Homo sapiens: one gene and its partner. The protein of the gene in region 2 interacts with the protein of the main gene of each other region in a pairwise test. Each region holds a gene or a part of one and is shown on either strand. Other genes may lie near its edges.

The links.
Region 1: the proteins of ADGRA3 (region 2) and ADRA1A interact in a two-hybrid assay, tested with the Homo sapiens proteins (one large-scale study listed by BioGRID and IntAct).

The regions. Positions count from the first base shown.
Region 1 is NC_000008.11:26,857,241-26,861,064, forward strand, and holds part of ADRA1A (alpha-1A adrenergic receptor), read right to left. Parts: intron 1,966-3,824; exon of another isoform or gene 1,792-1,965; intron 1,543-1,791; exon of another isoform or gene 1,453-1,542; intron 1,196-1,452; exon of another isoform or gene 1,114-1,195; intron 1-1,113. UniProt on the Homo sapiens protein: This alpha-adrenergic receptor mediates its action by association with G proteins that activate a phosphatidylinositol-calcium second messenger system. Its effect is mediated by G(q) and G(11) proteins.
Region 2 is NC_000004.12:22,439,383-22,443,206, forward strand, and holds part of ADGRA3 (adhesion G protein-coupled receptor A3 precursor), read right to left. Parts: intron 3,754-3,824; exon of another isoform or gene 3,726-3,753; coding exon of another isoform or gene 3,698-3,725; intron 3,482-3,697; coding exon 3,268-3,481; intron 1-3,267. UniProt on the Homo sapiens protein: Orphan receptor that may have a role in planar cell polarity pathway.

The DNA of each region.
Region 1 (3,824 bases), on a different chromosome or scaffold from region 2:
CCAGGCAAGCTGGGTGCTGACGTACTTTTGACCATAGAATCATGAGACATAGATGGCTGCTGCTTTAAGCCACTACCTTTTGGGATGGTCTGTGGTGTAGTAAGAGTAACTGAAACGCTGGCTTCTTATCTTAAAATAAATTCTAGCCAGGTGTGGTGACTCATGCCTCTAATCTCAATGTTTTGGGAGGCTAAAGAAAAAGGATTGCTTGAGGTCAGGAGCTCAAGACCAGCCTGGACAACACAGCAAGATCCCATTTCTATAAAAATAAAATATAAAAATTAGCCAGGCATGGTGGTGCATGCCTGTAGTCCCAGCTACTCAGAAGGCTGAGGTGGGAGAATCACTTGAGTTCGAGGCCGCAGTGAGCTATGATTACCACTGAACTCCAGTCTGGGTGAAAGAATGAGATCCTGTCATTAAATAAATAAATAAAATAAAATAAATCCTAATGGCACTAGTTTTTCTTCACACCATTATCTCTAAGAGGTGAACCTTTTCCATGAGAACTAGGGAACTGCTCCCTTTGTACCTGCAGTGAAGCAACCCTCAACCCCTGGTTATCTTGGGCATCCGCAGAGGGTTTGGGATTATCATATATCATTGTATGTACTTGTCCTTTTTCCTTGTCATTTTTCATATACCTTTGCTAGGTATCTAATTGTTCAGATGTTCTGCTCCATTAGGGCAGGGATTTATTTGTCTTTATCTCCAGTGATTCTATAGCTTCCTGGCAAACAGTATATGTTCAATGAAACTGCTGAATGAATGAATGAATCATTCTCTGCCTCATTGCCTCCACCTGATAAATCCACTGCCAGCTGTGCCCTCCTCAAACATCCAATCTTAAAACACATTTTTCTGCTCTATCAATGTGCTGCCTCCTGTTCTTTTATAAACATAATCCTCAAATATTCTATGTCTATGTAAGCCACATCTCAGCCCAATGCTGCCTCCTTTGATTCAGTGGCAACAGCAATCAATGGCTTAGGTCCTATAATAACGCTGGGTTTTGTGTTTAAATCAGATAACATATCCAGAATTCAGACACGTAACTATGTTTTCAGTGATTGTTGCCTTTTCATCTTCTTTCCAATGCTTTCTATTTCTTAGAATGCCAAGGACATCCACCCCTCATGGCAACATCTGCATGTTGACATACATCAGTAATGGTCTGTGAATCATTTGAATTCTGGTAAGATGAACATTTATTACCATTTACTCTGAGTTAGGCACTATGCTGGGCAGCTGACCTATATAACATCCCCTGTTATATGAAAAAGAAAGCCTAGGTTTAAATCTCAGGCCAACAGTTTCTCCATTCAGCAGCACACTGCCTCTGGAACTAGTGGGCTCTAGACAATGAGATGAAATCAACAAAGATGATTCATAGGCTTTAGATGCTGGAGCTTCCTGAGAAGCAGAGTTCTTATCCTTCCTTCTCTTTCGTAGGTTGAAGGCTGACACCGTCATAGTCTCTCTACTCATCTCCATGGCCAAAATTTGCTTTTGAAAGCATTTGCTCCAAAGTATAAATGACTGTTAACAACTGCACATGGCACCCCCCTCCCTTGAAGGCATTCTGAATTTCAACCAAACATTTAGGATGCAAAAATGGAACAAGATTAGCAAGATTTAGACTTGGAAGCAGGCAAGTCAGATTCCTCCCAACAGTCATGCTATTCAATGCAGCAAGCAACCCAGCCTTAGTGGAAAGAAGCTTGGGAAAAGGGAACGTGAGACTTCTCACAATATACAGGAAGGACCTTTGCAGTCAAATAGCCTACTCACCTGATTTTCCTGGGTCAGTCCCTATTAAACATGGGTGTTTCACTTCTCAGCTGTGGATAGCACACTCATCCCTGCCCTGGTTTCAGTTTTTAATCTCTTTCCTCTCCCGCAGCCTAGTGCAGACCGACAGCCCTTTTCTCCAAAACAGCACGTCATATTTAAGAATGTATGTCCCTTGAATATAATAATATGATAGTATATTTATTCTTCTGCTCACATTTTGCATGAAAAACATACTTAAGACAGTTAATAAAAAAACATATAACATCTCGTTGACGACCCAGCAGAAGTAGTGCCATCTTCTTTAAGTCTCTGCTCTGTCAATGGTCATGCATGTAGAAGCTTCTCAGTGACCTCTCGGCACAATGAACTGCTATATTCCTTAGCACACTGTAATAATATCATTCTGAGCACCATCCTGAGCACCATGTAATAATATCACTCTGAGCACCTATGTCATAGACTTGCAATAATTGTTGACAATTTGTCTCCTTAACTAGACTGTGAGGCCCTTGAGGGCACTGTGTTTTATTCATCTTTTTTATTCTGTGTAGCTGAGAGCCTGGTGCTTATTACATAGCCAGTACATTCTTGGAGGAAATCATCTCTTACTCAATTGGTGTCAGGAAGAAATTGAGAGCCACAGACTGGCAGGTTCAGGGATCCTTTGCACTACTGAGCAGCTACTCAGACCCTGTGAACTGTATGTTCCCTACTTCCCTCCTGTCATATCATTTTTCTTTTTTTTTTTTTTTTAGACAGAATCTCGCTCTGTCACCCAGGCTGGAGTGCAGTGGTGTGACTCAGCTCACTGCAACCTCTGTCTCCCGGGTTCAAGCGATTCTCCAGCCTCAGCCTACCAGGTAGCTGGTATTACAGGCGTGCACCACCATGCCCAGCTAATTTTTGTGTTTTTAGTAAAGACAGGGTTTCACCATGTTGGCCAGGCTGGTCTCGAACTCCTGACCTCAAGTGATCCGCCTGCTCAGCCTCCCAAAGTGCTGGGATTAGAGGCATGAGCCACCGCGCCTGGCACCTCACTAGGATTTAAAAGAAGCCCAGTGATTCCGAGGGCTCCTGTCTACCACCACTTCTCTCCACCACAACATCTTCTCCTCCACACTGCTGACTCCCTGGGAGAGCAAATCCAAGAGCGGGCTATGACTAGTCAGAGCATCCACCTCCCCTAGATGACTCCAGGACCCAGGCCATTGTTTCTCATCTCTATGCATAGCTCAGCCACCACTGCAAGCTCCAAACTCTCAGGCCACCCATCGTCACCTGGGCTCCTTCTACAACCTGGCTGTGGATGCTCCCTAACCTGACCGAGTCTGTGTCTCTTCACACACACACTCTCTGGGACTCACAGTAGGTCCTCAGCATTGCCTCCTGTATCCCTCAGCTGCTTAGCTCTTAGAGAAAAACACACAACCCTCCTTCCCGCTGTACTTTAATGTTATGACCGTAAATCTCAGATAGGCCTTCAGGACTTCCCAGTGACTCTACCAAACTTCCATAAAATGTTTACTGTCCCACTCTCAAAGATGAATCTTTCACACCTTCTCTGAGGCTAAAACTGCCATCGTTCCCCATTCCTGACTCTCTCTTAGCTGATGACCTTGCTTCATATTTCACTGAGGACATAAACATATCCTAAAGAGATCACTATCTCTCTCCCTCTGTCTCTACTTGCCTCAGGGCTCACACACTTTGCTCTCCTTGTCACTTCCCAATGCTCCCCTTGGGCACTGAATCCCGTTGCCTCTTTTGCCTATCCCATCAGTGCCTCTCTCTATCCCATCGTTCCCATCAGAATATAAATATCATGTCATATCCCCACCTCCCACCATTGAAAGCTCTCTCTATACCCCTCCAGCTACACCGCATCTCCTAGCTCCAGTGTATAGCAAAACCTTTCAGAAGAGTTGTCTATTTTCCCTGTTCCCACTTTTTTTATCCTTTGTTCTTTCTAGAAAGTACACAATCAGGCTTTTGGTTCCATCACTCCTCTGGACCTGTGAGCCTCACGTGCC
Region 2 (3,824 bases):
GGAGCAAATGTCAGAGCCTTCAATTAACCTTTATTTCCCCCACAGGACCCAGTATGCGTTGCTGTTATGTAGACACAAATGATAAGAAATAATTAGACAGAAAGTATGTATCATTTTAATTAACTTACAAAATTATGTCTTAAAGTAAATACACATTTGTCCGATCTCCTAAATCATTGACGGCTACAGCAAATGTTCTAATAAAGGCTCAAGACACTTTTATATTATGAATCATCAAAGAAAATGTTGTCTTTACTAAGTTAGAAAAATAAACATACTGTAATTAATATTTTTAAAATAGAGTGACACAAAAAAGAGTTTGACATTAAATTTAACTTTGTCCAACATTCTACTTTATAAGGCTTTACTGAACTAGGAAGAAGTATATTTCGTCAATGAAAATCATTCCTTAATCCAGAAGTTCCCAAACACTGTCTTACTTCACTGACATAGTAACTTTGTCATGGTGCCCCACCCCAGCTCAAAAAAATACCGATGGTGGTTTCTATTACTAAATTAAATCCCCCAAATGTCTATCTATATTCAAATACTTTAGTAGCCATTTGAAAAAAGTAACACACATAAATTTGAAATAAAATTTTTATTGTATTCTTAAATAACAACTACTTCTTAATGAGATATGTGTGCCTGCTAGACACTCTAAAATTAATCTAACCTCAGATTCGGATCAGACAATGATGCTCATTTCTTGTTCTACAATGACTTTTACACGTAGCACTTGCTTTGTACCACAGTAACTGTCCAAAGTCCAGCATCCCAAACACTATAATGGAGTGTTTCTAGTTTTCTTACTACTTTTTTCCCCTTCAATCTCCAAATCTGCAAATGTTTCCTGGATAACTTTTAGCAATACTTTTAATATCTAAAACCAATCACTGGAATAACATTTCCAGGAATCCTCAAGGCAGCAGATTTGGAGATTTAAAAAGAAAGAAGTAGCTTCAATTTCAACTCCTAAGAAAAATGCTGTTTCTTACTGATGAAGAATCAAAGACATGGGGAGATCAATGAAAAATCAATAGGAATCTCAGATTAACCAATGCAATAACCACATATTTCTTTCTTTTATTATTCTGGGGCAAAATCTAGGTAAAGAACTGTCTCAGGCTTCACATGAAAGATTTTCACTTTAGTCACATGTCCCTACCAAAAAAAATGTTAGGTTAACTTGTTATCCTTAGAATTAACTTTTTTTGCATTGCTAAACATAATTTAAATTTAAGCATGACTTGCAGAAATAGATTTATACAGTAAATCTACTTATTTTATAGTCAAATAATTTAGAGTTCTAAATTAATCAAAGCTCTTCTACATAGAAAATGGTTCTACTTTTAAAACTTTACTATTGAATTATACATCAATTATTGTCTGTTTATACAATAAACTGCTTAGTGTACAATGTGATGAATTCTGACATATGTATAGGCATGTGAAATTATCGCTACAGTAAAACTAGTGTAACAATGAATATATCATTTCGAACGATTAATCGTATCTCCTAATAAGGGAATTCTGCTTCTAGCAATCACTGAGTAGCTCATATTAAATCACCCTTCCCACAGCTAACAATTATATGCCCCTGACAAATTATAAAATGACAATCATTTGAACATATGAAGATTGATCAAAAGCAGGCAATAACTGAACAGGAGTTGATATGAGAAACAAGGGTTTTTGGCACTGGGAAGTAACTAGATTTTTTTTTAATGGCTTTTGCCCAAGGGTAGGCCTCACTCAAATAGAAACTCACAATCTTATTGGCTTAAAAAATCAGAAGACAGAGGTAGAAAGAAGTCAGGCTGGAAGCCCAAACTTCTATGTATAAAATGCACCAAGATCTCTTACTGATCCTGAACTACACTTGCAGGTAGAGAGCAGAAACCAAGACTTTAGCTTCTGCCTACCAGAGGGGACAGAGCTAGGAGTTAGTTCAGCCAAGCTAACTGCCTGACCAAACAAAAGTTAGCTCACTTTAGGAGAATATAACAGAATCCAGAGTCAGAGGTCGGCAGACTTTTTCTTCAATGGCCAGACAGTACATATTTTAGGCTTTGCTGGCTACGAAGCAATATTAAGAATATTATGCAGGGAATTATGTAACCATCTGAAATGTAACCATTTAAAAATATAAATAACATTCTTAGTTTATGGGCTCCGTGGGCCAGATTTGGTTCATAGACTGTACCTAGCCAGCTTCTCCTCCACAGCAAATCATTCATAACGTCCAGTCTATAATCCAAAACTGTCAGACCTATAAACAATACTTTTTTAAAAAGAAGAAAATATGAACCATATTTAAAAGAAAAGCAGCCAGTAGCAATAACCACAAGATTGCCCACATGTTGGAATTAGCAGGAAAGGATTTAAAGCATCTACTCTAAATGTTGGAAGATATAAATGAAAATATGCTTCTAGTAGACATGAAATCTCAAGAAAAATTATAAAATAGCCAACTGCATAAGTCTTGAATCTCAACTCAGAGAACCCCTGAGATTTGAATGTCAACTCAGAACCTTTAGTTTTTCAGTAATCTTTCATAGCACCCCTGTGAGTTTGCTGTGATGTTACCCTAGGAGGACCTGGCAGAGAGTCTGAAAACTGCAGCTCTACTGAAATAAAAATATAAGCCAAGTTCTAGGTAGGTGGAAAGAAAGAAGAAAGGGAGTGGAAAACTCAATGTCTAAAGGTAAAAATTTTACCAAAGTAAAATATCTGGTAAGTGATAATATCATATATATTCTTAGTCTATTATACTTTATAAAGTATTTTTACTTTTAATTATTTTGGTATTCACACCAATTATGAGGTTGATAGTTCAGATGTTATATTCTTTTATACTAGTAGGTGGAGAAGATAAGTACCTTAAAATATTGTATCAGTCAATATTTTGACTAGAGTCAATATCAGGTGATTACTAAAAGAGAAAATGTAAGCTTAGCAGCAGGAAATAGTTGGAAATTAGGTTTAGCACTAAAAGTTTACATTTTTCCTCCAAAAACTTTAAAAAAGTCTTCAATTTCTAAAGTTTCTTTGAAATTAAGTCTTTTCTTTAAAAACTGGATGAAAAGATGGCTATTTAATTTTAGAAGATGAATAAGAACCAGGAAAAGGAAATGCCAGATGTTTGCATTTTTAAATACAAGAAGATGAAATATTAATTCAAATTCCACTAAACATTACACCTCCAAAAGGATAAATAAAATACACAGGCACAATTCTTCATTCAAAAAAAAAAAAAAAGTTTACCTTGCAATCAAGGAGCAGTTGTGAATCATGTTCTTTTCAACAAAAATACCTTGCGATTCATCGGTTTCAACTATTCTCCCATCCTGATACCACAACACTTGCATGTCCTGATCAATATATGAAGCCATGCACTGGAAAGGAAGGCTGTCTCCTTCAAACACAACTTGGCGATGAGATGGAGTCATGTAGAAAGACGGCAATTCAAGCGGAGGGTCTAGAGACAATCAAACAAAGATTCAGTAAACAAATATAATTTCCAAACACCATAATTAAAAGTTACAGAAATTCTAGGTAAAATAATAAAAACAGAACAACAAATATTCCTCAATAATCAGCATGCTACTGCTAGTATCAACCAGGCTGCTACTGAGTTTAGTGATAACAGATTAAAACAAAATTAAAAAGAAACAATTTCATAACCAGTTCTGACATTTAGAGTTATTCCTCTTCAGTGGCATCCTAAGAGTATCAGATGATTACAGAAATGAACTAAAAGAACAAGCTGTGCTCTAGAAAATGGCATCAGTGATAAGTAAATGTTGATATTTACAACTTTA